Regions from separate parts of the Homo sapiens genome. Here all the other regions are linked to region 4. The links come from fine-mapping of genetic effects on gene expression. A gene starts in region 4. Each other region holds a variant in brackets. All regions are shown on one strand. Distances are from middle to middle.

The links. PIP is the estimated chance that this variant, and not a neighbour inherited with it, causes the effect.
Region 1: its variant is the best candidate, but not a certain one, in a credible set for the expression of NFRKB in whole blood (INTERVAL, PIP 0.86).
Region 2: its variant is the best candidate, but not a certain one, in a credible set for the expression of NFRKB in whole blood (INTERVAL, PIP 0.76).
Region 3: its variant is the best candidate, but not a certain one, in a credible set for the expression of NFRKB in blood mononuclear cells (TOPMed, PIP 0.61).

What each region holds. Positions count from the first base shown.
Region 1 is chr11:129,913,832-129,918,972 of GRCh38, reverse strand. PRDM10 (PR/SET domain 10) reads left to right here. Exons shown (of 21, transcript NM_199437.2): 14 at 255-434; 15 at 1,736-1,846; 16 at 3,113-3,313; 17 at 3,955-4,269. Among named protein-coding and RNA genes, the nearest start is that of NFRKB, 21 kb to the right of the region's middle. The variant G/A (reference allele first, on the strand shown) is at 3,253.
Region 2 is chr11:129,929,457-129,934,597 of GRCh38, reverse strand. PRDM10 (PR/SET domain 10) reads left to right here. Exons shown (of 21, transcript NM_199437.2): 10 at 2,367-2,496; 11 at 3,340-3,582. Among named protein-coding and RNA genes, the nearest start is that of NFRKB, 36 kb to the right of the region's middle. The variant T/A (reference allele first, on the strand shown) is at 3,022.
Region 3 is chr11:129,799,058-129,804,198 of GRCh38, reverse strand. The region is part of intron 1 of LOC124902793 (a long non-coding RNA gene); the gene reads left to right. Among named protein-coding and RNA genes, the nearest start is that of TMEM45B, 14 kb to the left of the region's middle. RefSeq lists an enhancer at 201-701. The variant T/G (reference allele first, on the strand shown) is at 2,560.
Region 4 is chr11:129,893,287-129,898,236 of GRCh38, reverse strand. It overlaps NFRKB (nuclear factor related to kappaB binding protein), which reads left to right and starts at 2,659. Exons shown (of 27, transcript NM_001143835.2): 1 at 2,659-2,741; 2 at 3,799-3,878. RefSeq lists a silencer at 2,503-2,942.

The DNA.
Region 1 (5,141 bases), 21 kb before region 4:
TCAAAAGTCGGTATGTATCTTTCCTATTTAATGGTCATTTTAAACCAAGGTTCATTGGAATGCACATATTTGCTAGTGAACAGAGTAACTCCCAGCCACTTTTAACATGTCTGCGTCCTAGTGTTCCAGCAACTCAAATGTCTCTTGGAGGCTTGTGGTGACTGCTAATTTGTATTGATTTTTAAAATGATCCCTTCAGTTAAAAATTTTCTACCCCCGTGTCTACCCCGTTTTCAAAAATACTCTCCAAATAGCGAAAAGACAAACTACGGGAACACATGCAGAGGATGCATAATCCTGAGAGGGAGGCCAAGAAAGCCGACCGCATCAGCCGCTCCAAGACGTTCAAGCCCCGCATCACGTCCACAGACTACGACAGCTTCACGTTCAAGTGCCGCCTGTGCATGATGGGCTTCCGGCGGCGCGGCATGCTGGTCAGTGCCCAGTGGCTGCGGGTTCCTCTGTCTTCCCAGCATACCTCATTGCTGTCGATGATGGTGACGTTTGTGTTGCATTGTGTCCTAAGTTATATCGATCAATGGTTTTGTCAATGTCCAGGGGAAGAAACAGAGGCAAACGATTCCCAATTTGGAGTTCTGTCTTTTCTAGTCTCCCTTTGCTCTCTCTTGCTGCTTTTTGGATCAATTCTTGTAAGAGGTCTTTTTCTTTTTCTTTTTTTTTTTTTAATCACTTTTCATTACTACTTTTGTTTTTCTTTACCCATCTCAATCTCTGCTCTCACCTTATTTTAGTTCCCTCTTTTGTGTCCCTGAATGTATTTTTTTAATGGGGTATTTGCCTTCTCCCCAGCTGTTCCCTTTTATTTTATTTATTTATTTTTGAGACAGAATTTCGCTCCTGTTGCCCAGGCTGGAGTGAAATGGCGTGATCTCAGCTCACTGCAACCTCCCCCTCCCAGGTTCAAGCGATTCTCCTGCTTCAGCCTCCTGAGTAGCTGGGATTACAGGTGCCCACCACCATGCCTGGCTAATTTTTGTATTTTTAGTAGACACGGGGTTTCACCATTTTGGCAAGGCTGGTCTCAAACTCCTGACCTCAGGTGATCCACCTGCCTCAGCCTCCCAGAATGCTGGGATTACAGGCGTGAGCCACTGCACCCAGCCCCCAGCTGTTTCCTTTTAATGCCTCTCTTTTCCAGATATCAAACAGCAGTAGAAGGAAGCTTTCCGTCAAAGCAGGGTATGTGCATCCAGGTTAGCTGAAGCATCAGACAGCCAGTGCTCTGCTCTCAACTCATTTTGACCTTGTTACGGGTGCAGAATATATTTCTGCCAGGTGCTGGAAAGTCATAGAGCAATATTTAAAATTCAGAACCTTAGTCTGTATCTCATTCCATGTTCTTAGTAAGACTAGGGCATTAAATAATGAAAGACAGGTTTGCATGAGGAGAACTCACCAAAGAAATTCATACCAGTGTAATTTTCCTTTTTCCAATAGTAGTTCTTTCAGCCAAAGACTGTTGATGGCTGAATTCACCACAGTGAGTCACCTTCAATTGTTTGGTGAATTATTGTTAACTCCTGTTAACCATGACTGTGAGTGCTTTGGCATCAGATGGGGTCTGGTGATCCTGGTTCTGGCCAAATGCCTTATTATTTGGGGGCATTGCTTCAGAGAATTCCAGCTTCTGGCGGTCATTATCAGAGGCATTCGTGTAGCTTCTGTTTGGTTAATGGGGTCTCTTTTTCTCATTGGTTCTTTCTTTTCCCTTTAGGTAAATCACTTATCGAAGAGACACCCAGACATGAAGATAGAAGAGGTGCCAGAGTTAACTCTACCCATCATAAAACCCAATCGTGATTACTTTTGTCAGTATTGCGATAAGGTAAAAGGGAAATATTCATATTGGTATGCCACTGGGGTTCCCTGCTTAGAGCTGACTTGTCCGTATTTATAAATATATACTACGATTTTTTTGTTACTCTTACCAGATGGTTACCTGTCTCTCAGTAGTCTCCATTCAGACAAGAAAGGACTAGAAATACAGCCTTATTTTAAGCCAAATTTTTTTCTTAAGAAATAGTTGACTTCATTTTTCTTACTGTCCCTTCTCTCTGTGATTTTTGTTACACAAGAAGAGGTTTATTACTAGTGCTTAGTGTATGAATTAATTTCAAATTCCTAGGCTCTAAAATGAGAGCATTTATCATGACCTATAACATATATGGTAGTTTTGGGGTTTCTATAAGGTGGAGGGGGTTGGGAAAGCTTTGTGGTGGAGTACTCTACTTGTACTATTGCATTATTTTCATGTAGTTACAGAAAAGACACAGAATATATATTTATTATTCCACTGTAATATCCTTTCTTACTTTTTGAGATGGAGTCTTGCTCTGTTACACAGGCTGGAGTGCAGTGGCATGATCTCAGCTCACTGCAACTTCCGCCTGGGTTCAAGCGATTCTCCTGCCTCTGCCTCTGGAGTAGCTGGGATTACAGGCGCCAGCCCCCACGCCCAACTAATTTTTGTATTTTTAGTAGAGACAGGGTTTCACCATGTTGGCCAGGATGATCCACCCTCAGGTGATCGCCCGCCTCGGCCTCCCAAAGTGCTGGGATTATAGGCATGAGCCACCACACCCAGCCATCCTTTCCTTATATAATGTAGCTATATCAGCTTAAAAGTGAGAAACATTTTTTAACATAGATTCCCCACTATAGATAGCAGTTGCTATTGACGTTGCCATTTGGAAGATTCTCTGGCTCCTGGTCTTCAGCTGCGTACATCATATGAGAGCTTTCACAGGCAGCTCTCATATGAGGTGGATGGGCCTTAAAAACAATTATCTTCCTCTGTCTGTGTATCATATCCAAATTTTAAACTTTAGGATAAAGGGTATTTTCACAGTTATTATCTTAGATTTATAGATTAAAGAAAGAAACCTATCATATCTACATTATGTTCTTATTTTATTCTAATTTGTAGTATATCCTTGCTCTTCAATAGATCTGTTAATATACATATTAATATATTTTATTTGGGGCTACATGAATACTTTTCCTCATTTTCTTATAATGAAATTGTTAGTTTGCTTTAAGCAAGAAAGTGGAACTGTATACTGCTTTCATGGCAAGGCGCTTACATTTGCAGGTTTATAAAAGTGCCAGCAAGCGCAAAGCCCACATTCTGAAGAACCACCCAGGAGCAGAGCTCCCACCGAGCATTCGGAAGCTCCGACCCGCTGGTCCTGGAGAGCCAGACCCCATGCTGAGCACACACACCCAGCTGAC[G/A]GGCACCATCGCCACCCCTCCCGTCTGCTGTCCCCACTGCTCCAAGCAGTACAGCAGCAAGGTAGGGGGAGTTTCTGACTAAAGCTAAGGTCAAAACCGCCATGCGAGGAATCTCTTAAGGAAAGGTGGCTTCTCATCCACATGGCCTGGATGGCTCCTTCTGAGTTGACGGGGGACTGAAAGAGATGTTGTCCTAGTCACTGTAAACAGAGAGCACAGCAGAGAATGGAAAGAGGATACTGTGGACCTCCCCAGAATTAGTGCCGTACAGCAGCCCGAGCAGCTGGCTGTTTTCCTTTTCCCTTGGCCTGCGGAGGGCCTCACGTTTGAATGTTCTGTGCTTGCAGTTGGTGAGTTCAGGCTTTTGGAAGCACCACATAGAAAGTTACGTGGTGGCTTTACAAAGGAGGTCATTTTGGCTGGGGGGATTGTGATTGATTGCTGCAGGTACTATTTGGGGGGGGTATTGAGACCTTGCTGATGGTGTGAGGTCAGGTGAGGTTTTACTTCTTCCCCACCCTCTTCCCTGCTTTCATAGCATTATGTTACCCCAGGAAGTACAGGCATAGAGTCAGTGTTGCTCTGATTTTTCTTTTTTTAAGACATAAAAGACTTTAGGAATCTTTGGAGGATTTACATATGAGAAAAACGGAAAATCACAAATTCTAATAATTATTCTTGTTTTTTGCCTTGCTTTTTCAGACCAAGATGGTCCAGCACATTCGAAAGAAGCATCCAGAGTTCGCCCAGCTCTCCAACACCATACACACACCACTGACGACAGCTGTGATCAGTGCCACCCCAGCGGTTTTGACTACAGACAGCGCCACTGGAGAGACTGTGGTGACGACGGACCTGCTCACCCAAGCAATGACAGAACTGTCCCAGACCTTAACGACAGACTACCGAACGCCACAAGGGGATTACCAGAGAATTCAGTACATCCCTGTGTCGCAGTCGGCGTCTGGCCTCCAGCAGCCTCAGCACATACAGCTGCAAGTGGTTCAAGTGGCCTCGGTACTGCGTGCCTTGGTTTCCCTTTGCCTTATGAATGCCGTGTTGCCACTAGCACCTCATTCTCAGAGCTGGGGCTGGGATCTATGTAATGTCCTTCTGCGTGGAAGTTCTGAGCCTTGGGCATTTTACAACTGCCCCTTCCCCTTTCAGGCTGATGAGGCCTCTGGCCTTAGCAATGTAAGAGATTTCTGTCTATAGTAGTCAGGAAATTTTAGGTTCCAGCATATACAAGCCTCCTGTGCTGTGGCAGGACAGTAGCCACAGCACCTGTTTCTGACCCTCTTCTGATCCTTATCTTTAACCATCCTGGTTGGCTGCTTGGTAATGAGCCAGTTTGATAAATCACGACCTGCGTATCAAATGTCTTATATCAAAGAGAGGTCATAAAGCATAATATTGATGGCTGGGCGCAGTGGCTCATGCCTGTAATCCCAGCACTTTTGGGAGGCTGAGGCGGGCAGATCACTTGAGGTCAGGAGTTCGAGACCAGCCTGGCCAACATGGCAAAATCTCGTCTCTACTAAAAATACAAAAATTAGCTGGGCATGGTGGCGGATGCCTGTAATCCCAGCTACTCAGGAAGCTGGGGCAGGAGAATTGCTTGAACCTGGGAGGCGGAGGTTGCAGTGAGCTGAGATCACACCATTGCACTCCAGCCTGGGCGACAGAACAGGACTCAAAAAAAAAAATTGAGTCAATCTCTGCATATCAGTCAGTGCCTTTGTAGTATAGAGGTATAACTGTGTTCCTTCTACCAGATAATGAATAACTCATTCTTATTGACTAAGGAACTAAATGAAAGTGATTCTCCCAGAACTATTGTTTCATTTAATTACACTGAGGAGAAGTGTCCCCAAGGCACAAATGAACAA
Region 2 (5,141 bases), 36 kb before region 4:
GGTTTTGGTCGGGGAGTATTGTGATGTTGATTGTATTTTTTTTTTGAAAACCATTTTGGATAAAAATAACACCTGGAAAAAAATAATCACTAGCTTATATTAGAGTAAGAGTGAAGACAAGGAGTCCTGTTAGCATCTATCACAATAGTTTGGGGGAGGAATGAGGGTGGTTTGGAGTAGGCTCATGCCAGGGGGACAGATGTAGGGTTGCCAGCTTTTCTAGGGTTTGGAAAGAGAGGAGATGTGTGAGATGGTAGTTGGGTAAGTGGGAAAGCGAATGTTCTAGGGAAGTACCATACAATTGCCCACTCTATTAAATGCCCACTTGGGGTTCATGGTTATGAAATGAAAGTGAGCCCACTAGCATGGCTGTGCGTTTTCTCCAGCTTCATTCAGCTGCAGGGATGCTGGTGCAGAGCAGGCAGGGAATTGAATTACACAGGGTTGTGGCTTTGCCAAGTGCTCATAACACACATTGAGAAAACAGAGCAGCCATGGGATGGGAACTGAGAGCACGCACGAGGGAGTGGTTCCAGTGGATGACCTTGGAGCGTATGCTGTGGAAGAAGGGGAGAGAACATCAAGGCAGTGATGCAGAGCTGCACGAAAGCACCGGAAGGATTGAACTGGAGATGCTCGCGTGGCTGAAGGGTTGCTGAGTGCTGGGTACTAGAGGGAGTAAACTACAGAGCCAGGGTAGTGTCCGAGTGGGCAGTGCATGGGATTGGCATGAAGAGGCTTACAAGGGTGACAGGGTCTAGAATGTGACCACAGGGGTAAATGTCTAAGGAGGGGGTGGACACAGTGAGATTTGAGTCACTCCTGGGAATCTCCAAAACTCTGTTCATGGCTCTATTGTAGCATTTTTTATATTATATTGTGATTTTTGGTTTATATGCCAGCTCCCTTTTCTAGACCCCTGAGGGTAAAATCTGTTGCCTGTAATCTGATGTCCTTAGTGCCTAGCCCAGTATGTGATACACAGTAGGTAATATGTTTGTTAGCCAACTGTTAAGAGAAACCTGGGACAACTAGGAAGATTTGAACTTTGACTAGATATAATAATACTCAGCAACTCTCAGATATTTCTCAGGTGTGATAATGGTATTGTGGTCATATATATATAAAGAGTTCTTATGATTCAGAGAGACATGCCAAGATATCTAGAGATGAAAAGATATCTGGGATTTGCTTCCAAGTCATCTACTGGGTATGTGTGTGGGCAAGTGGTGGGGATATAGATGGAAAATGTTGGCCATGGTTTGAAAAATGTTGGAATTGGGTTATGGGTACATTGGGCTCATCGTGCTAGTCTCTACATTCACCTAGGTTCAGAATTTTCCAACATGAAGAGTCTTTTAAAAGTTCCTGGAAAAAATATATAGTATTTGTTAAATTATTAAATGGATGAGTGGAAGAATAAAATTTGATCTGATTGACATTGTACACTTCCCACATACATATCTTCTAAAAGAAGCTTTCATAACCTACTTTTTTAAGCCTCTTTTATTAAGGAATTTGTGTTTGTTGGCAATTCATGCCAGGCATGGTGGCTCATGCCTGTAATCCCCGCACTTTGGGAGGCCCAAGAGGGAGGATTGCTTGAGTTCCAGACCAGCCCAGGCAACACGGTGAAACCCCATCTCTACAAAAAATTAAATAAAATTAGCTGGGCGTGGTGCCACATGCCTGTAGTCCCAGCTACTTGGGACGCTGAGGTGGGAGGATCGCTTGAGCCCAGGTGGTTGAGGCCACAGTGAGCCATGATTACATCACTGCACTCCAGCCTGGGTAGCAGAGCAAGACCTAGCCTCAAAAAGAGAAAAAAAAAAAGTCCATTAAAGGGGATGCAAAAGTTAATTGATGTTTACTAGGCATGTTATGAAACAATTGAATTAGAAATTTGTTCTGACCTTCCAGAAGCTTGTAGTAAAACAAGAAAGTTGTTTGAATTTGGCCACATTTCTTGGAAGGAATATGAGGCGAGGCCAGGGGAAAAAGAGAGAAATAATGGGAATCTTGTCTCAGATGACATCTCCTGGGAACACGCTCAAAGGCTTAGCATGTTCTGTCCTGTCTGCCTTTCTCACATCATTTCAGAAGCAAAATATTGTCAGTGCTTTGAATTTTTATAGCTCTTTTCTTCAGAATAATTGAAGACATATCTTTAAGCTGTAATAGAGGGGAAGGATGAGACATTCAGAAAGTGTATATTAGTAAAACAGTTGTTTCTATTGGAGAAAATCTGGGAAAGTAATAAGGTGAGAGGAATCAAACTCTGGGGTTAGTAAGGATCATTTAGGTCGCTACTTGTTATGGAGTATTATGTAACCATGACGACCTGTAACCCAATCTCTTGTCCCCAGAACAAGAGGCAGAGGAAGGGGACGAGGCAAGAGGCGATTCGGTCCAGGTCGACGGCCGGGGCGTCCTCCAAAATTTATCCGCCTGGAAATCACCAGCGAAAATGGGGAAAAGAGTGACGATGGGACACAGGTACGGGGGGACGGGAAGGAGCCCTCCTTAGGTGCTTGTGTGGAGGACTCGCCAGATCCCTGACGAGACCTAAGTACAAAGACCTTCCCAATGTTTGTAGACCTTTCCTATCAGACCTTGCTGCCTGTTAATTAAAGAATGATTGGATAATGCCAGAAAAGAATGTATTTTCAAGTGTTACCTACAACAAAAACCCAACTTTGCTGCTCTAAAGATTTAAAATTGACCGGACTTGGCCAGGCGCAGTGGCTCATGCCTGTAATCCCAGCGCTTTGGGAGGCCGAGGTGGGCGGATCACGAGGTCAGGAGATCGAGACCATCCTGGCTAACACGGTGAAACCCCGTCTCTACTAAAAATACAAAAAAAATTAGCTGGGTGCAGTGGCGGGCGCCTGCAATCCCAGCTACTCGGGAGGCGGAGGCAGGAGAATGGCGTGAACCGGGAGGCGGAGCTTGCAGTGAGTCGAGATCGCGCCACTGCACTCCAGCCTGGGGACAGAGCGAGACTCCGTCTCAAAAAAAAAA[T/A]AAAATAAAATAAAATAAAAATAAATAAATAAATAAAATTGACCAGAGTTAGTAGAGGTGGACTTTGTTTAATTAGTTTAAACAATTAAAATTATTGATATTCCAGAAAAGTCAGATCACAGTCTTTTCCTTGTTAAGTGGTGTGGAACCTCTCCTGCTTTTGCCTTCTGTGCATAGTTACCTAATTAACTTTCCCAGAGGGAGAATATTTTTTCTGAGTATTATGAATCTAGTCATTCTGAAATAAGCAGCAATTCTAAATCTGAGCTGACAGTCCCTCCGGCACTGATCTCTATTCCTGGTTATTGCAAATTTCAGGACTTGCTACATTTTCCCACAAAGGAGCAATTTGATGAGGCTGAACCAGCCACTCTGAATGGGCTGGATCAACCAGAACAGACCACTATCCCAATCCCTCAGCTGCCACAGGAAACCCAGTCTTCCCTGGAACATGAACCAGAAACTCACACCCTGCACCTGCAGCCGCAGCATGAAGAGAGCGTGGTGCCCACCCAGAGCACGCTGACAGCCGACGACATGCGCAGAGCCAAGCGCATCCGAGTAAGTGGGGAAAGCCGGCGGCTCCTGGCACCAGCCGCTCATCTTCCTCCCACCACCAGCTCTCTGGTGGTTTTCTAACCTATTCACCTTCCTCTCTGAAATCTTGCATCTAGCCTGTCACATGCTCGATCCCCTTATTTTGAAAGAAAGTGTTCACTATTTCTCAATGTCTCTGTGTCCCATGGCAGGCTGGCATGGCTGGTCCTAGATTTGACCAATTTAGTGACGACACAGAGGCCTAGAGGTTGGCAGCTCCTGGACTAGCTCTCTGCATCCCTCAATTCACAGATTGGAAGTGGAGAAATAAGTACATTTAGTTATAATAATCATTTATATTTTAAACCAGGCTAATTTGTGCCTAATCATAGCTCTCAAGTTGATTTTGGGTAACTAAATGTGCTTATCTACAGCTTCCCAGGGGAGAATGGCAAATGTCATTACTCATCAATGTAAAGTGACCTGTGTCCAAGTTGATATGGCAGGTACAGTTCACACACCTGCGGATAGCTTGAGCCAAAGCTGTCAGTTCGAGAGTTAGTCAGTGTCTGAGTCACGGGACCTGTGTCTTGGCCTCAGACCATGCGGCTGCAGGGCTTTCCTGACTTGCAGTTCAGATGCGTTTTCTCTTATTATTTCACAAATAGCATTTGACTCTGAGTTAGGAACTGCAGGGGATTCGTGTGGAAAACAATATGGCTTTGTGGGATAAGTGTCTGTGCTGATAAAAACCAATGACTTACAACCCATGTTTATGGCAGCTGAGTGCATAAAGACATATTGGTACTTTCCAGTAGATGAAAGAGACATTTTGTATAACTTCCCAGGCTTTACAATTTCTACATGCATGATCGTTCAGCGTATGTTTCTTTTGGTCTTCTTATTTGCCTCTAGGCTAGAAGGGACCTTGAAAAATAGTCTAGTCCATGCCTTCATGTAAAAACACATTTAAACATTTGTAGTCATATGATAGCTTTGAAGGGCTCTAAGAACTGAGGCTAAACAGCCTTTATGAGAGCCCTGTAATCGAAACATATGAAACTCTCAGCTCACTGTATATTATTTCACAAGAGTATATCAACATACAGAAATACAGGCCAGCAAGGAAAACAAGCTATGAAGTAATATCCCATCCATCCTTCTCCTTTAGTTCCTAATCTGCACTTCTTTCTCTTGCTCAATTACTATATTTTCTGCTTTGGCCATTCTGATTTTTTTTACTAAGTCCAGAGAAACCCTTGCTAGATTTTTTTTTTTTTTTTGGAAGGAAAAAAAAAAACCGAAGCCCACACATGCAGTGAAGTTGTGGATGCACAAACACAGTCCAGCCGTAATTGTACTTGCATTTTTGAATGAGCAGGGTTACTGGTTTTGGTGCAAGGTTCCTTGTGTCAAAGCGAAAGCCATATGTATCTGGCTTTTGGAGGTCAGTCTTAGTTGAGCTATTTTGTTTTTTTTTCTCTCACACATTCTAAAAAGTAGGGCTATGTATTTTTTCATCTTTTCTATCCAGATTGGTAATGACCAACTGAAGGGAAGTCTTCCAATCCAATTGGTAATGT
Region 3 (5,141 bases), 94 kb after region 4:
TGGTACTGGGTGTTGTCTGCACACAGTCCTGTGATGTGAACTGTCTATAGGTCTCTCAGCTGCAGATACCAGCGCCTGTTGCAGTGGAGGTGGTGGAGGATGCAATGGACTCCGTTAGGGTCCTTAGTTTTGATGGTTTAATGCTCTATTTTTGTGCTGGTTGGCCTCCTGCCAGGAGGTGGCATTTTCCAGAAAGCATCAGCTGTAGTAGTGTGGAGAGGGACTGGTGGTGGGTGGGACCCTAGAAGTCCCAAGATTAAATTCTCTTTGTCTTCTGCTACTAGGGTGGATTGGGAAGGACTATCAGGTGGAGGCGAGGCTTGGTGTGATGAGCTGAGACTCTCCTTGGGCGGGTCTTGCTGTGGCTGCTGTGGGGGATGGGAGTGAGATTCCCAGGTCATTGGAGCTGTGTACCTAGGAGGATTATGGCTGCCTCTGCTGAGTCATGCAGGTTGTCAGGGAAGTGGGGGAAAGCCAGCAGTCACAGGTCTCACCCAGCTCCCATATAAACCGAAGGGCCACTCTCATTCCTACTGTGCCTCCCACAACAGCCCTGAGTCTGTTTCCAGGCAGAGGGCGGGATGGACTTGAAAACTTACTGGAGGCTTTGTGCCTCCCAGCTGTGAAAGAAAATGGCTTTAGTTCTTCCCCTTGCCTGTGAAGTCTGTGCACCAGATTCATGCCCTCCCACAAGTTCTGGCTAGGAGGCTTCTCACCCCTTTCAAATTGTTACAAAGTTCAGCTAGAGATTTCCTTCTCCTTGTGGAGTTTAACCGCCTGCTCCTCTGGCCACCCTCCCGATGGATTCCTGTGGTGTCAGGCAGGAATGGGCTGCTTGGGGACCTAGTGAGCTCCCAGCGCCTTTCTGGTGCTTCCTGTACCCCTGTATTTCGCTCAGCTCTCTAACTTGACTCAGCTCCAGGTAAAGTTGGAAACTTCTCTTGCAAACAGACCTTCATCTTCTCTAGTGGGGGTGTGTGTTTGGGAAAGGAGAATCTCCCTTCTCACTTATGCAGTTGGGGCACTCACAGTATTTAGGGTGTCTCCTGGCTCCCACAGGAGCAGTCTGCTTCCTTCAGAGGGTCTTTGGGTCTTCTAAGGATTGCTGTTTTTTTCTTGCAGTCAATCTGGGCTAAAATTCACAATGCAAGCCTCTGCATGCTGCCTTGTTTGGAGCTGCAATCTAGTCCTGCCCCCCATCTGCCATGATCCCAAAATCCCCCTGTATTATCTTTTTGATAATGCTGTTGGATTCGGTTAGCTACTATTTTGTTGAGGATTTTTGCATCTATGTTCATCAGAGATATTGGTCTATAGTTTTCTTTTCTTTCTTTTTTGTTTGTTTGTTATATCCTTAACTGGTTTTGGAATTAGGGTGATACTGACTTCATAGAATGATTTAGGGAGTATTCCCTCTTTCTCTATCTTTTGGAATATTTTCAGTAAGATTGATACCAATTCTGCTTTGAATGTCTGATAGAATTCAACTGTGAATCCATCTGATCCTGGACTTTTTTCATTGGCAATTTTTTTTTTTTTTTCCGAGATGGAGTCTTGCTCTGTCACCCAGGCTGGAGTGCTGTTGAGAGGTGAAGCTGTCTGGGCTCCTGGGTCGGGTGGGGCCTTGGAGAACTTTTCTGTCTAGCTAAAGGTTTGTAAATGCACCAATCAGCGCTCTGTGTCTAGCTAAATGTTTGTAAACGCACCAATCAGCACTCTGTAAAAACAGACTGATCAGCACTCTGTAAAATGGACCAATCAGCACTCTGTAAAATGGACCAATCAGCAGGAAGTGAGTGGGGCCAAATAAGGGAATAAAAGCTGGCCACCCAAGCCAGCAGCGGCAACCCGCTCAGGTCCCCTTCTATGCTGTGGAAGCTTTGTTCTTTCGCTCTTCACAATAAATCTTGCTGCTGCTCACTCTTTGGGGCCACACTACCTTTATGAGCTGTAACACTCACTGCGAAGGTCTGTGCTTCACTCCTGAAGTCAGCAAGACCATGAACCCACCGGGAGGAACAAGTAACTCCGGATGCACCACCTTTATGAGCTGTAACACTCACTACGAAGGTCTGCAGCTTCACTCCTGAAGTCAGTGAGACCATGAACCCACCAGGAGGAACAAAAAACTCCAGTCGCACCACCTTTAAGAGCTGTAACACTCATCGCGAAGGTCTGCAGCTTCACTCCTGAAGTTGGCAAGACCGCAAACCCACTGGAAGGAAGAAACTCCAGACACATCTGAAGATCTGAAGGAACAAACTCCGGACACACCATCTTTAAGAACTGTAGCACTCACCATGAGGGTCCGCGCCTTCATTCTTGACGTCAGTGAGACCAAGAACCCAGCGGAAAGAACCAATTCTGGACACAGTGTGGCATGATCTTGGCTCACTGTGACATCTGCCTCCTGGGTTCAAGCAATTCTCCTGCCTCGGCCTCCCAAATACTTGGGATTATAGGTGCGTGCCACCACACCCAGCTATTTTTTTTGTATTTTTAGTAGAGACTGTGTTTCACCATGTTGGCCAGGCTGGTCTTGAACTCTTGACCTAGTGA[T/G]CCACCCACCTCGGCCTCCCAGAGTGTTGGGATTACTGTGAGCCACCACACCTGACTTTGTTGGCAATTTTTTTTTTTTTTTTGAGACGGAGTTTCGCTCTTGTTGCCTAGGCTGGAGTGCGATGGTGTGACCTTGGCTCACTGCAATGTCTGCCTCCTGAGTTCAAGGGATTCTCCTGCCGCAGCCTACTGAGTAACTGGGATTACAGGTGCTTGCCACCATACCAGGCTAATTTTTTGTATTTTTAGTAGAGATGGGGTTTCACCATTTTGGTCAGGCTGGTCTCGAACTCCTGACCTCAGGTGATCCACCTGCCTCGGCCTCCCAAAGTGCTGAGATTACAGTTGTGAGCCACCATGCCTGTATGGCAATTTTAAAATTAGTGTTTCAATCTTGCTACTTGTAATTGGCCTGTTCAGAGTTCTATTTCTTCCTGATTTAACCTAGGAGGGTGGTATATTTCCAGGAGTTTATCCATCTCCACTAGATTTTCTAGTTTGTGTGTGTAAAGGTGTTCATAGTAGCCTTAAATGGTCTTTCATATTTCTGTGGTATCAGTTGTAATATCTCTCATTTTATTTCTAATTGAGCTTGTTTGGATTTTTTCTCTCTTATTTTCTTGGTTAATCTTGCTCATGTTCTAGCAGTTTTGTTTCTCTTTTCAAAGAACCAGCTTTTTGTTCCATTTATTTTTTTTAGTTTAAATTTCATTTAGTTCTCCCATCTTTGTTATTTCTTTTCTTCTGCTGAGTTTTTTTTTGTTTGTTCTTGTTTCTCTAGTTCTTTGAAGTGTGACCTTAGATTGTCTATTTGCATTCTTTCATCCTTTTTGATGTAGGTGTTTAATGCTCTGAACTTTTCTCTTAGCAACACTTTTGCTGTATCCCAGAGGTTTTGAAAAGTTGTGTCACTATTATTCAGCTCAAATAATTTTTAAATTTCCATCTTGATTTTACTGTTGACCCAAAGATAATTCAAGAGCAGATTATTTAATTTACATGTATTTTTTATACTTTTGAGGGTTCTTTTTGGAGTTTTCAGTTTTATTCCACTGTGGTCTGAGAGGATACTTGATATAATTTTGATTTTTAAAAACTTACTGAGACTTGTTTTGTGACCTATTATATGGTCTATCTTGGAGAATGTTCCATGTGCTGAAGAAAAGAATGTATATTCTGCAGTTGTTGGATAGAATGTTCTGTAAATATCTGTTAAACTATACCTTGGTGCAAATGGACTTAAGTCCATTGTTTCTTTGTTGACTTTTGGTCTTGACGACCTGTCTAGTGTTGTCAGTGGAGTACTGAAGTCCCCCACTATTATTGTGTTGCTGTCTGTCTTGTTTTTTAGGTCTAGTAGTAATTGTTTTATAAATTTGGGAGCTCCAGTGTTAGATGCATATATAGTTAGGATTGTGGTATTTTCCTGTTGGACAAGGCCTTTTATCATTATATAATGTCCTTCTTTGTCTTTTTAAACTGTTGTTACTTTAAAGTCTGTTTTGTCTGATACAAGAATAGCTACTCCTGCTCCCTTTTGGATTCCATTGATGTAAAACGTCTTTTTCCATCCCTTTACCTTAAGTTTATGTGAGTTTTTATGTGTTAGGTGAGTCTCTTGAAGGCAGCAGATAGTTGGTTGGTGTATTTTTATCCATTCTGCCATTCTGTATCTTCTAAGTGGAGCATTTGGGCCATTTACATTCAATGTTAGTATTGAGATGTGAGGTACTGATGTTCTATTCATCGTATTAGTTGTTGCCTTAATACCTTGTTTTTTTCCCCACTGTATTATTGTTTTATAGGCCCTGTGAGATTTATGATTTAAGGAGGTTCTATTAATATTTTGGTGTATTTTGAGCTTTTGTTTTAAGATTTAGAGCTCATTTAAGCATTTCTTGTAGTGCTGGTTTAGTGGTGACAAATTCTGTCAGCATTTGTTTGTCTGAAAAAAGACTTTATCTTTCCTTCATTTATGAAGCTTAGTTTTACTGAATACAAAATTCTTGGCTGAAAATTATTTTGTTTCAGGAGGCTAAAGATGGGTCCCCAGTACCTTCTGGCTTATCAGGTTTCTGCTGAGAAGTCTGAAAAGTTTTCCTACACAGGCTACCTAATACTTTTGCCTCACAGCTCGTAAGATCCTTTCCTTAACATTCTTGACTTTAGACAACCTGATGATTATGTGCTTAGGTGATGATCTTTTTGTGATGAATTTCCCAGGTGTTCCTTGAGCTTCTTGTATTTGGATGCCTAGATCTCTAGCAAGACCAGGGAAGTTTTCTCAATTATTCCCTCAAACAAGTTTTCCAGATTTTTAGATTTCACTTCTTCCTCAGGAACATCAGTTATTCTTAGGTTTAGCTGTTGGGAGGGTTTGTTCATTTTTAACTTCTTTTTTTCTTTGTCTTCGTCTGATTGGGTTAATTCAGAAGCCTTGTCTTTGAGGTCTGAAGTTCTTTCTTCTACTTGCTCTAGTCTATTGTTGACCTTTCCAATGCATTTTGTGTTTCTTTAAGTGTATCTTTCATTTCCAGAAGTGATTTTTTTCATTGTGACATCATTTCTCTGGAGAATTTTTC
Region 4 (4,950 bases):
AAGACAAACAATATCCAAAAACTGTGAGATGATGAAAAAAAGGTATAACTATGCCTCATGGGAATACTAGCAGAAGACAGAGAAAGGAACAGAAGAAATATTTGAAGCAATAATGATTGATTATTTCCCCAAATCAATATGGAAGATGAAACCACAGATCCGGGAAGCTCAGAGGACACACAGGATAAATGCAAAAAAATCCTTCAAAACCAAAAAACAAATGAACAAAAAATGACTTTTCTTCAGAAACTGTGCACACAAGGAGCGAGTGGAATGAAATGTTTAAGGTGTTGAGAGAAAAAAGCAGTGTCTAACCTAGAATGCTGTAGCCCATGAAATTATCCCCCAAAAGCAAAGGGGATTTGTTGCCAGTAGACCTGCCTTGGAGAGAATGTTAAGTTTTTCAGAGAGAAGAAAAATGATAAAAGTCAGAACCTCAGATCTATATAAAGAAAGAACATCATTATTACCTTTAATAATGAAGGTAAAGGAAAAGTCTTACTTATTCTTTGTTGTTTTATTTTTCTTTTTACTTTTTTGAGACAGGGTTTCACTCTGTTGCCCAGGCTGGAGTGCAGTGGTGCAATCACAGCTCACGGCAGCTTCGATCTCCCTGGCTCAAGCGATTCTCCCACCTCAGTCTCCTGAGTAGCTGGGACTACAGGCACGTGCCACCACACCTGGCTAATTTTTTGTATTTATTTTAGTAGAGATGGGGTTTCACCATATTGCCCAGGCTGGTCTCCAATTCCTGGGCTCAAGTGATCCACCCATCTCAGCCTCTCAAAGGGGAAGATCCTGGGCATTGGGACTGAGGTGTTTTTGATACGTTCATGCAAAGATGCCTGGAGTGGGTGGTTGGATTTCTGGGTTGTTTGATTCATAATTGCTTGATTCATAATTGCCAAAACCTGGAAACAATGAAGATATCTTTCAGTAAGCGAATAGATAAAACTGTGATATATCGACACAATGGAATATTATTCAGCACTAAAAAGAAATAGGAGCTATCAAGCCATGAAAAGACATGGAGGAAACTTCAATGCCTGTTACTACGGGAAGGAAGCCAATCTGAAACGGCTACATACTATGTAATTCCAACTAGATGACACTCTGGAAAAAGGCAAAACTATGGAGACAAAAAGATCAGCGGTTGCCAGGGGTAGAGGAGAGGGAGAGATGAATATGCAGAGCACAGATGATTTTTAAGACAGTGAAATTACTCTGCATTATACTGTGATGGTGGGTAATGATGTATCAATGTAGGTTCATCAGTTCTTTTGTTTGAGATGGAGTCTCGCTCTGTCTCGCTCTGTCGACAGGCTGGAGTGCAATGGCTCAATCTCGGCTCACTGCAACCTCCGCCTCCCCGGTTCAAGCAATTCTCCTGCCTCAGCTCCCGAGTAGCTGGGACTACAGGTGCCCGCCACCACGACCGGCGAATTTTTGTATTTTTAGTAGAGACGCGGTTTCACCATGTTGGCCAGGATGGTCTCGATCTCCTGATCTCGGGATCCGCCCGCCTCGGCCTCCCAAAGTGTTGGGATTACAGGCGTGAGCCACCAGGCCGGGCCGGGTTCATCAGTTCTAAGAAATGTACCACTCTGGTAGAGGATGTTGATAAAGGGAAGGCGATGCATGTGGGGAGGTGGGGCGGGGAGTATTTGGAAAATATCTTTCTGCTCAATTTTGTTAACTTTAAACCACTTTAAAAAAACAAAGTCTATCAAAAATTATAGTTTACATTGTTTTTACTCTTTTTCTCTTTCTGGTCTTGTCACAATCTCAAGGTAAGGGAAATATCGGTGACAACTATAGAGTGATATTCCACTGCCATTTATACTCGATAGTTTCTAATTCAAGAGCCTCTCAACAGTGTAACAGGAACTTAGAGCATATGTGGAGCCAGTAGAGGAACAGAGATCGGGTTGTTTGGAAACTACTCTCTTCCAGGAAGGGAAGAACATTAGCTCGGCCGGCCGGCTTCTCTGGTCCCATCCACACACAGAACTGAGGATGGTCTCTGCGCCACTGCTGGGAGTACCTGGAATAAGTAGTGTGAAGCCGTACTAAGCAAAACCCAGTGAATAACAGGAAAGGGGCCTTCATATCTAAGAAGAGGAAAATGATGGAGTTTAACTTTAAAATGTGATCCTTCGATGTGTTTACATTCTTTCTGGACATCGAGGGCCCGGGGACGGGAAGGAGGAATGAAGGAACTCGGAAGCACAGGCTGAGGTCGCGTTCTACTCATGTCCTCAACTGTAAAATGGGCACTAATAGTGCATAGCTCACAGGGCTGCAGCACAAAGACGGTGGGTAGAAAGTGCTTAGCATAGGGCCTGGGGCAGGGTATGCTCTCTGCAAACGTCAGCTAATAGACGTGCCTTCGCTCACGGGCTATGGAACTTTGATTCGCGGTCAGGCAAAGACAGGCACTGTCTGGGGCCTCTGGAAGCTCCTAAATCAGGTGAGACGCGCAAGCAGGCTGGAACCTGCATCCCCAGGCCCAGCCGCGCGCAGGCACCCTCGCCGACCCTCCGCTCTCCCGAGCCGCTCCAGGACCCGCCCGCTGTGGCCCCGCCCCGGCACCCTCCAGGCCCCGCCCCGCGCTGCCCCGCCCCTTCCGCCGCGCAGGCCCAGAGCGTGCGCGCACCCAGACTCCTTGCGGGAGCGAGTGCGTCTGGGAGCCCGCGGCCGGAGAAGGGCTGCGGGTTAGGGGGCCGGCGCCCGCGGTTCAGGTGAGGGCGGGCAAGGGGCGGCGAAAGGGTTGAAGTGTCTCCTGGGAGTGGAGGGAGCGGGAGCGGGCGGCTGGGTCCGCGAGGTCGCTGCCCGTGTGGGCGTGGGGAGCGGGAGCGGGGCGTGGGGAGCGGTGCGACGCGTGAGGCTGGGGGTTAGGGTTAGGCACGGCGTGGGGGAGGGGCGGGGCCGAGCCGTGCAGTTCTGAGGATTGGACCCGGGCCTTGGGCCAGCCGGGCTGGCACCGGAGGGGAATTTGCTGCAGAGTTGAGGGCTTTGGAGCCGGCGGTTGCTCTGGAAGGACCCGAGGGTTTAGCTTCTGCGTTGGGGAGGGTCCAGCGGGGAAAGTTAGACCAGGTGCTGAAAGCCAGTGATGAGAGGCCGAGAGGCCTTCGTGGTCTAGTGAAGAGGTTCAGAACGCCCGAAGATCTGGAAATCCTTGGCTTCCGGGGTCCAACTCCCTGGCAGCTGCCTGGTTTTGGTATTTTGAGATTCTGTTCAGAATAGTGGCAGTGCAAAGGTTGTCAGTGGACTAGATTAACTTTAGCTAGACACGCACCGTCACTGAAGAAACTTGTGAGCAAGTTGTATAGAGACCTCCTAAGAGGCAGGTAGGACACTGACTTTGCAGTTGATAGTCTGTTCTATGCCAGTTCTGTTAAGAAGGTTTTATTCTGAGCATCAGGTTGCTTCTGCAATTTTTTTTTGGTGCTATTTTGAAGTTTTGTTAAACTCACATGCTATGTGCTGTCTCACCCGCTTCACTTATTTAGGCATAGGCATGATGAGGATGTCATTTCACCATGTGCTGAAGGGTGATGAGGGGGCACAGTTGCTTGGGGACCACCCACGTGACTTGACTCAACGCTTAAGTTTCTGCTATATCTTTACATGGATCTGAAATCTCTTCAAGGGAGCTTGAAATAATTTAGTGGAACATGCTTCATTTTACATATAGTTATTCTAGAACTGTTCTTTATCATTGGAGAATTTTGGAAAAGAAAAGTACCTGTATTACGTAATTCACACTGTCACTCATCTAGAGATTATTCATTGCAGGATTCCAGAATTGGAAATAACGGGAGGGAGGACCTGGTCCAGCTTCCCTTCCTCAAATAAGGAAATTGACACCTGGCGTGGTAAGATTTGTGGAATGTGGTGTTTGTGGAATGTGGAATATGGAATTCTGGTGTTTTGACTGTTAACATCCTTTTTTCTTTTCATTTTAGTATGCTTTTTAGCCCACTTTGTAGGAATAGGAGCTGGAAAGGATGGATTTAGTAAATGTTGGTAGAGTGATTGAGTTTAAGCTCCCTGTGGTCCTGTTAGCATTGTGCAGTCCTGTGCTATCAACTTGACCCCTAATCCCAGCCATCAGTCTGAAAATGTTGTGGTATGTAGTTTTCTGAAGGTGATCAGCAGTGTTCTGTTATTACACGAAGGAGAAAAGTAGCATTAATTTACATGATTATACGGATCAAATGGACCAACTAAAGGCAGATTGGCCATTGACTTTACTGGTGGTTATGGTCAGGTGTGTGGAACCTCAGGAATTTATATGGACTAATAAAGTCATATCAGTAAGGTTCGTTTTTATTATTTAAATGTTGCGAGGTTATACAAGAGGTATTGTGTGTAGCATTAAGCACATGGGTTTGCAGGCAGGTAGACCTGAGTTTCAGTACTGCCTCTGGGGTTGGGCAAGTTACTGACCTACTCTGATTTTCAGTTTTAATTCCGATGTAATAACCCATGACCTTACTTTGCACAGTTGTAGGAATTAAATGAGATATGTGAAAGGCCTGGCTTTTAATAGGCCCTCATAAAGTGACTGTTAGCATTTGCATTTTACTAGTGTATGTTGATTTTCAGCAAATTTTCTTTTGTGAAAGAACAACAAACAATATTCTTTCTCTTTTTCCTTTCCTTTTTTTTTTTTTTTGAGACAGGGTCTCTGTTGCCCAGGCTGGAGTGCAGTAGCGTGATCACGGCTTATTGTACCCTCTGCATCTCGTGTTCAAGCGATCCTCCCACCTCAGCCTTCTGAGTAGCTGGGACTACAGGCGTGCGCCACCACGCCTGGCTGATTTTTTTTTTTTTTTTTTTTTGTAGAGAAGGGGTTTTGCCATGTTCGCTAGGCTGGTCTCAAACTCATGGATTCAAGGGGACTGCCCGCCTGGACCTCCCAAAGTACTGAGATTGTAGGTGTGA